Regions from separate parts of the Homo sapiens genome. Here regions 2 and 3 are each linked to region 1. Evidence: fine-mapped expression QTL. A gene starts in region 1. Each other region holds a variant in brackets. All regions are shown on one strand. Distances are from middle to middle.

The links. PIP is the estimated chance that this variant, and not a neighbour inherited with it, causes the effect. A credible set is the group of variants that fine-mapping cannot tell apart.
Region 2: its variant is the best candidate, but not a certain one, in a credible set for the expression of ADAMTSL4 in monocytes (Fairfax 2014, PIP 0.58).
Region 3: its variant is the best candidate, but not a certain one, in a credible set for the expression of ADAMTSL4 in whole blood (INTERVAL, PIP 0.56).

What each region holds. Positions count from the first base shown.
Region 1 is chr1:150,548,118-150,550,875 of GRCh38, forward strand. It overlaps ADAMTSL4 (ADAMTS like 4), which reads left to right and starts at 1,291. Exons shown (of 19, transcript NM_019032.6): 1 at 1,291-1,382; 2 at 1,705-1,778. LOC124904417 reads left to right here and starts at 2,173. Exons shown (of 1, transcript XM_047438226.1): 1 at 2,173-2,758. The coding sequence starts at 2,173. ADAMTSL4-AS2 (ADAMTSL4 antisense RNA 2) reads right to left here. Exons shown (of 6, transcript NR_187269.1): 6 at 447-633. RefSeq lists silencers at 476-770, 702-851, 1,022-1,161 and an enhancer at 2,497-2,758.
Region 2 is chr1:150,154,396-150,157,153 of GRCh38, forward strand. It overlaps PLEKHO1 (pleckstrin homology domain containing O1), which reads left to right. Exons shown (of 6, transcript NM_016274.6): 3 at 1,671-1,811; 4 at 2,516-2,620. Among named protein-coding and RNA genes, the nearest start is that of LINC02988, 5.0 kb to the right of the region's middle. The variant G/A (reference allele first, on the strand shown) is at 1,145.
Region 3 is chr1:150,602,138-150,604,895 of GRCh38, forward strand. It overlaps LOC107985203 (a long non-coding RNA gene), which reads left to right. Exons shown (of 3, transcript NR_186818.1): 3 at 1,983-2,147. Among named protein-coding and RNA genes, the nearest start is that of MCL1, 24 kb to the left of the region's middle. RefSeq lists an enhancer at 2,493-2,758. The variant C/T (reference allele first, on the strand shown) is at 1,141.

The sequences.
Region 1 (2,758 bases):
TAGCTGGGTGCGGTGGCTCACGCCTGTAATCCCAGCACTTTGGGAGGCCGAGGCGGACGGATCACGAGGTCAGGAGATCGAGACCATTCTGGCTAACACGATGAAACCCCGTCTCTACTAAAAATACAAAAAATTAGCCGGGCGTGGTGGCAGACGCCTGTAGTCCCAGCTACTCAGGAGGCTAGGGCAGGAGAATGGCGTGAACCTGGGAGGCGGAGCTTGCAGTGAGCCAAGATAGCACCACTGCACTCCAGCCTGGACGACAGAGTGAGACTCCGTCTCAAAAAAAATAAATAAATAATAATATAATAATAATAAACATAACGCAGAGTAAAAAGCAAAAGCCTTTTTCAGTCCTCCCCCAACCCTGCATCCCTCCCCAGATGTCACCAATACTACTGAGTTTGGGGTGCATTCTTCCATGTATAAATGCATAAAGAGACATATCCAAGCCCATCATATATATTAGATTAGTCCCATTTTGCAGATGAGCAAACTGCACCACACAGGGGTGGAAGTATTCGTCGAAGACCACATAGCTGGCAAGAGCTGGAGCTGAGGTTCAAATCCAGATCAGTCTGACTCAGAAGTCAGCACGCTGTCCTTTCGCTGAGTCCCGAGTGTAAAACCTTACTGAGGAAAAAAACCGAAGCTCATAGAAGTCCCAGCAATCTGAACCACCACTGCCCAACACGGGAGAGGCAGGAGTGACTGAGTTTGCAGGGGAGGCTGCGTGGAGGGGAGAGCCTGGACCCACGCGGATCGGGGGCCGCGGGTACCTCCGTCCAGGGCGCTTCCCTCCCGGACCAGCGGCTCTCCCAGGCCGCCTCGCTCCAGGCGCCCCTGGAGGCTGCCCCGCCTGTGCCGCGCCGCGCCGCGCCGTGTTCGCACCGCTCACCCGAGCGGCTCGGAGGCCCGGGTTGCTTAAGTCCCTAGTCTCAGCCGGGCACGAGGACAGCGCCCGGGAGCGACTGCAGCCTCTGACCCCGGCTGGGCCAGCCCGGGCTGCTTAAGTCCCTAGTCTCGGCCGGGCACGAGGACAGCGCCCGGGAGCGACTGCAGCCTCCGACCCCGGCTGGGCCAGCCCGGGCTTCAGCTCACGCAGCCGTCGGGGGGCGCCCGGCGCGCAGCCCGGGGTGGGTGGTCCTGGCGAGTGGGGCTGCGAGGCAGACCGGCCCCACCCCGGGGCCGCCGAGGGGCGCGGGCTGGGGCGCGTGGCGGGCGGGGCTGGGCGGGGGCGGGCGCGAGGGCGGAGTTGCGGCCGAGGCGGCCGTGACCGGAGCGCGGCTCAGGGGCCCCAGTGGCCGCCGCGGAGCGAGGTTGCCTGGAGAGAGCGCCTGGGCGCAGAAGGGTTAACGGGCCACCGGGGGCTCGCAGAGCAGGTAGAGACCTCCCCGGGACCCCGGCCCCGGCCGCCCCTCTCCCGGGTCCCGTTAGACCGCCCGCCCCGCGCGCCCGCGTCGTCCCCTCTCCCTGCGCTGTGCGGTCGCGACCCCGCCACGACCCCGGACCCAGCTCCGGTGGCCTCGGACAATCTTCCAGCCCCTGGGGTCGAATTCCTGGGGAGGGAGTCTGATCCCGTGGAACTCTGGCCCCATCACCCGGGCGGGGAGTGAACCAAAATTCCTCCTAAGTCACATAGTAAAGTTGGAAAACAGACCCATGACCTCCCCGCGCGGCCGGTGCCTCCTGCCCTCTCTCTAGGAGGGTGCTCTCGGACGGTGTGTCCCCCACTGCACTCCTGAACTTGGAGGACAGGGTCGCCGCGAGGGACGCAGGTGGGTGCCCTTGATCCAGCTCAGCCCGATGGCAGAAGAGGTTGACAAAAAAGAAAGACACCTGTTGGGGTGGCCTGCCAGACCCAGGAGTGGAGGGCTCTGAGGGCCCGGGAATTCGGACTCAGGACAGGGATTCTCCATGGCTAGGCCCAGAAACACAGGGTCCAACCACTCTCCAGCAGGGAGACCTGGGGGTGAAGGGGTGAGCCCTGCGCAGGTCTCTGTTCCTTGGTCTTCACTGGGCAGTGTGGAGAGGTGTGGCCAGGAGGAGCCCGCGTTTGTCCAGACCAGGGTCTACTCTGGCACCAGAGTGACCACCTCTGACCTCTCCTTTCCTCGTCCTGGGCCGGGAACGACACCAAATGAGGGACATGGAAAGGGGTGAGAAGCATAAATGTGCGTGTGTTTCTGCAGAGGAGGGGGCATGGGCCCCTGCCGGGCTGCGCAGGGGAGGGTGGGGTGGGACTTTTCCAGAGAGGGAGCCAGGCCTGGCCCGGGCCCCGGGAGCTCACGTCACCCCCACCCCTCACTTCTCCAGGGAACTGCCAAAGCCAAACCCAGCTCGGGATGGGATTATGTGTACTGGGTAGACCCGTGGAGAGGGGCTGCGAGAAGAGATCTCGGTGGCAGAGAGAAGCAGAGGCAGAGAGGGCATGAAGAGGGGTCGGCATCAGAGAAGGGGCAGGCAGTGACTATCACCCCATTTCTTCTTCCCTCAGCTGGAGTAACAAGAGTCAGGCAGAGCCTGAAGACTTGGGTGGAACATGGGCCCTTCTCTGGAGATCCTGGCCTCCCCCGTTCAGTCAGGGTGGAGTTGCTGACCTTAGTGGCCGGCCCAGCCAGGGGAAGGAGTGGCCATCGGCAACCCCCACCCCAACCCCAATCCCTGAGGCGCCCGCTCTGGCTCAGCCACTCTGACCCCTCCCTCAAATTCCGAACCCTAGGTCTCAGGGAGGGCAGTGGGGCTGAGTGTCTGCCCC
Region 2 (2,758 bases), 390 kb before region 1:
CCCTGGAGGAGCCAAGCCTTGCTGAAACAAATGGAGGTAGATGTATGAGGCGTCACTCACCTGAATGGGGCCATGTTGACATCTGTCCTCATCTGTCATCAGCCTCCAGGTCCAGCAGCAGTTCAGAAGGATGGGCAGATACAAGACTGTAGATGGTCTGGGTAATGGAAGGGAGAACCACTTCCCCACTTCCAGGTTTCCAGGAACCAGGAGGATAGATGAGTTCACCTCCATGCACACGAGTCCTATTTCAGAACTTGGGAAGTTGGGGACTGTTTTGGAAAATAATTTCAGTCAGGGTGGGTAGATGTCATCCAAGGAAGACGTGAGGCTACTTTTATCTGTTTGTTTAGTTTTAATGAGACAAGTGCTGGTGCTTTTAATTCTCATTCCAGGAAAACGTGACCAGGTTTTTCCTGAGGTGTTCCAACCCTGGGCTCAAGCCACGGAGGGTGGACAGACTGCACGGTCTGGACTTGTAACTAAGTCTCCTCTCTGTAACTTTGGTCCTTGCTAGCCAAAACAAATCCATAAGCCACTGCTTCAGAGTCCCAGAGTTGTAGGAACACCACCTTAGGGGAAAAGAGAAAACATTGTGGTCAGTTTCAGATGAACCTGCGAAGAAATGTTCCTAGAGCTGCTTTGCAGTGCTCAGAAAAGGCTAGTTGGGGTTGGAGAATGTCACTAGGAATGCGGCCTCGATGAGACGTTCAGCAGGAGTGCTAAGAGCTAAATGTTGCTTAAAACCTGCTAAAGGTGGAACCAGAGTGCGGGACGGAGACTATAGCAGGGAGGGCTAAGTTTAGATAGGAGGAAGAGCTTCCTGGCAGTAAAGGGGGCCCAGGCACTCAAACTGGAATAATGGCAAGAAGTCACAGAAGTCACTTTTTTCCAAGTCTAAAGTGTAGTCTCCCAGGGAGAGTCTAAGTGCATTCTTGCCTAGAGATAGGGGGTCTGGAGGAGTTAGTTTGGATTGTCACAGTACCTTAGAGGGAGGAGGAAAGGGTAGGAACTGTAATTGTAGTTTTCAGCTTCTCTGGACAAATTCAGCAAACTGAACACGGGGCTGCCGTCCTGTGGTGGCGATGCTCCTGAAATGAACAAGGAAGATGAGTCTCTATAATTGTACATACCAGAGAAGGAA[G/A]CGAGGTGGGGTGGGAGAGCTATACTGCACACATGTGAGTGGGGAGGCCAGAGACCGCCCCTCGTTCCCTCCAGACACCCCGATAACTGGCCCTGCCTTGATCTTCTTTCTGTGGACCATCAAGGGCCATACAGGTCTGTCTTACTGAGGGCAATGGATCAACCATCTACCATGTCCCTTTAAGGACGTGAGCCTTTTTAGAACATGTAAGCTGTGTCCTTAAGGAAAAGAGTGGGGCGGTTGGTGAAGAGAGGCATAGTGGGACTCTGGAAATGGCAGCCTGGCTAAGGAGAGTGAAGAGAAGGGGTTTAAACAGAAACACACCTTAACATTCAAGACTTGGAGCTGCCCTAGCGTCCTCCTCGATGTGAGGACCTTGTAGGCTTTGGGCAGACGGCCCTCTCCTCTCCTGGCGTGCCTCCCTCTCCTCAGGCTTCCTCTGTTTCCCAAGATGATCTAAACTAACAGTCTGGGTGGAGGGGCTAAATAATTTTATCCTCCTCACCTCACCCCAACCCTCCCCTAGGTAAAAGATGAGAAAAATATTCAAGAGGTATTTGACCTGAGTGACTATGAGAAGTGTGAAGAGCTCCGGAAGTCCAAGAGCAGGAGCAAGAAAAATCATAGCAAGTTTACTCTTGCCCACTCCAAACAGCCCGGTAACACGGTATGTTTCTCCTGCCACCTTGGCTGCTGGAACATGGACAGGGTTGGAGGGGGCAGGGGAGAACTCCTTCCCCTCAGTTTCTCTCTCAGCAATCTTGGTTCAGATTCCCTGAATTGCTCTCCTGCTGGCTTTTATCATTTCACCTGAGAATATTGTAGCCATTTCCTTCTTTCCAGGCAGGCCACCCTTTAACCTGTTCAGCCACAAAGATCATCTCTCTATATATCTCTTTATTTTTCTCTGTCTTATACACACACATCCACACATGTGCATATTTACATCCCTTAGAAGAAAATCCCTGTCCTTGTACCCTGATAGGTGGTTGAAGTTCTGAATCTAATTCATCTTGTCTGAGGGAACCCAGGGAAGTTATTCCTGTCACATTCTATTTCTTCAAACATTGAAAGATTTGTATTTTAATACCTATCCTTCATCAGACTTCCTCTAATTATCTCTAATACCATACTAATATTCAGTATCCTTCTTAGCTCCTCCTTGGTCATTTCTAAAACAACCTCCTAGCTATGCATTTTGCAGGAATAGAAGCTGGGTTTCCTTAAGTTATGGATGACTCTGGAAGCAGAATATCTCTCCTTCCTGGAGCTAGGTCTAAGAAAGTGAGATTATAATCTCTTATTTCTTCATTGTCAAGGTGAGGCACCACCTCTAAAACCCTGGCTGAAACAGGAATCTTCCCCTCACAGGCACCCAACCTGATCTTCCTGGCAGTGAGTCCAGAAGAGAAGGAATCGTGGATCAATGCCCTCAACTCTGCCATCACCCGAGCCAAGAACCGTATCTTGGATGAGGTCAGGGGGCTCACTGTGGGGAGAGGGAGGAACGCTGGGGCAGAGGGAACAGCTGTGACCCACTGAAGGGGGAGGATTGTGCAGGCCCCGTTTACTCGCTCCTCCACCAGCTCTACTTCTTTACCACCCTTTTAAAAG
Region 3 (2,758 bases), 54 kb after region 1:
GGCATGTGCCTGTAGTCCCAGCTACTCTGGAGGCCAAAGTGGGAGGATTACTTGGTCTGGGAGGCAGAGGGTGCAGTGAGCCAAGATCATGCCACTACACTCCAGTCTGGGCAACAGAGTGAGACCGTCTAAAAAAAAAAAAAAATTCCCATATATTTCTACATGTAAATACATAGAAAAAGGGCTGGAAGGATATATAATCAATATTAAACAGTGTTTATCTCTGGAAGGAAAGGACCAGGACTTGGAATAATGGCAAGGAAGCCTTGTTTGTAGTTTTTTTTTTTTTTTCATCGTTTTTGAGGAGTCTCACGCTATCGCCCAGGCTGGAGTGCAGTGGTGTCATCTCAGCTCACCGTACCTCCGCCTCTCCGCCTCCTGGGTTTAATCGATTCTCCTGCCTCAGCCTCCTCAGTAGCTAGGATTACAGGTGTCTGCCACCACGGCCAGATAATTTTTTTTTTTTTTTTTTTTTTTTTTAGTAGAGACAGGGTTTCACCATGTTAGCCAGGCTGGTCTCAAACTTCTGACCTCAAGTGATCGGCCGGCCTCGACCTCCCAAACTGCTGGGATTACAGGCATGAGTCACCAAGCCCGGCTTTTTTTTTTTTTTTTTCTTTTTTTAATTTTTTTTTTTTATTATACTCTAAGTTTTAGGGTACATGTGCACATTGTGCAGGTTAGTTACATATGTATACATGTGCCATGCGACCGGCTTTTTTTGTTGTTGTTGTTTTTTGTTTTTGAGTTGGAGTCTTGCTCTGTCATCCAGGCTGAAGTGCAGTAGCATGATCTCGGCTCACTGCAACCTCCACCTCCTGGGTTCAAGCCATTCTCCCGCCTCAGCCTGCCGAGTAGCTGGGACTATAGGAGTACACCATGCCCAGCTAATTTTTTGTATTTTAGTAGAGATGGGGTTTCACCATGTTGCCCAGGCTGGTCTCAAACTCCTAAGCTCAGGCAATCCGCTCACCTTGGCCTCCTAAAGTGCTAGGACTACAGGCGTGAGCCACCATGTCCAACCTGTAGTTTTGTTTTTTTTTTGAATGAAGGTTTTTAATGTTATATGTTGTATAAAATTAATGCATTAATTTATTATTATGAAATCAAAACAACCCTACCTTACCCCGAAAATAACAC[C/T]TGTAGGTTTTTGTCAGTTGTCAGATGGGCATCTTGCTATGTTGCCCAGGCCGGTTTCAAACTCTTGGAGCTCAAGCTACCTTCTGCCTCAGCCTCTAGAGCAGCTAAGACTACAAGTGTGCACCACCATGTCCAGCTTAGGTGTCAGTTTGATATGAGTCAGTAGCATAAGTAGTAAAGAAAACCTAAGGGGGCCTTGGGCTCTCCTACGGTCCAGGTCTACAAGCAAGCAGGTAATGGTTTAGTTCTATTTGGCTTGGTGAGGCCACATCTGGACCAAAGTTAGACAGGCACACTGACACATTTGAGCTCATCCAGAGAGTAGACAAGGTGATGCCAGGAGTCCACACTATGTCAAGGAGGACTAGCTAAAGGGAGGGAAAATGTTTAGGCTAGTAGATGTAGAAAGAGGTGGTCCTCAAACTCTTGACGTTTTCATGAGGGTGAAGATAGTAGATTTCAAGACACTGGAGTTATTCAAGAGACTAAATATTCACTTTCCAGGGATACTGTGAAAAAGATTCACTGAGGAGGCATTCGTTGGAACTAGATTTTTTTTTTTTTTAAGAGACAGGGTTCTGCTGTGTTACCCAGGCTGGTCTCTAACTCCTAAGCTCAAGAGATCCGCTTGCCTCAGCCTGCCAAAGTGATGGGATTACAGGGTAAGCCACGTGCCTGGCCTGGAACTAGATTATCTTAAAGTTAGTTTCCAACTAACTTTATTTCAATTTATTTCAAGTTTCCTTGAAATAAATTGAGTTTTCAATTTATTTCTGGTTCCTTGGCCTCAACCAGATTTATTGAAATTTAAGTCCCTAAAACTGTCTTTTGTTTTATTATAGAGAGGATATTAACCAGAAGGTTACATACTACAATCTGGAAGGAATAATCTCAATATCATGAGTGCCAATTAAGTGCCTCAGAGAATACAAAGGTGACCATAACTGGAATGCTTAACAAGTACCAACTGAAGAAATGTAATGAAAATTAAAGTTTAATTTGTTTTCCCCTGTCTCTGCACAATTTATTTCAGTGGGAGAGGTTTTCCTCAGATGTGGATCACCTTTAGGTAATAGTCTTTGCAACCACTTTAAGTAGCAAAACATACTCTTGGTCCGAAATATATTAACACATCAATTTTCATCATAGGTAAGAATCTCTCTACCCCACAGCTAGGGTCAACAGAGCCAGCCAGCTCGCCTCTGTGAAAGAGGGGGTAGTTGGCTTCTCTCCTTTTGCTACACTGATATTTCTAGGAATGGGGCAGAATGAAGAGGAAGGGTTATTAGTGGCTTCATGCTGTCTAGGCCTGGCTGATGTTAAGAATTATCTCATGAGCATTTGTATGGCTCCATCAGAGGCTTCCCTGGGGGCGCTTTCCAAAGGCAGTGGCAACTTCCTGAAGTGAGGTGATGTATTCTATTTCTATAGCCACCACTCTCTCATTATCCTTTTGTTTTCCAGTGTTCTTTTCCACATGAAGAGCCCCACTATGCATCCAGGCAGTTCTCTTGAGTAGGATTTAAACTGGCTCCACACATGGTCCACAGGATTCATGTATATCTGACCGTTTATCAGAAGCCAGTGTGGTGACTTCCAGGATGTGACTCTCTACTTT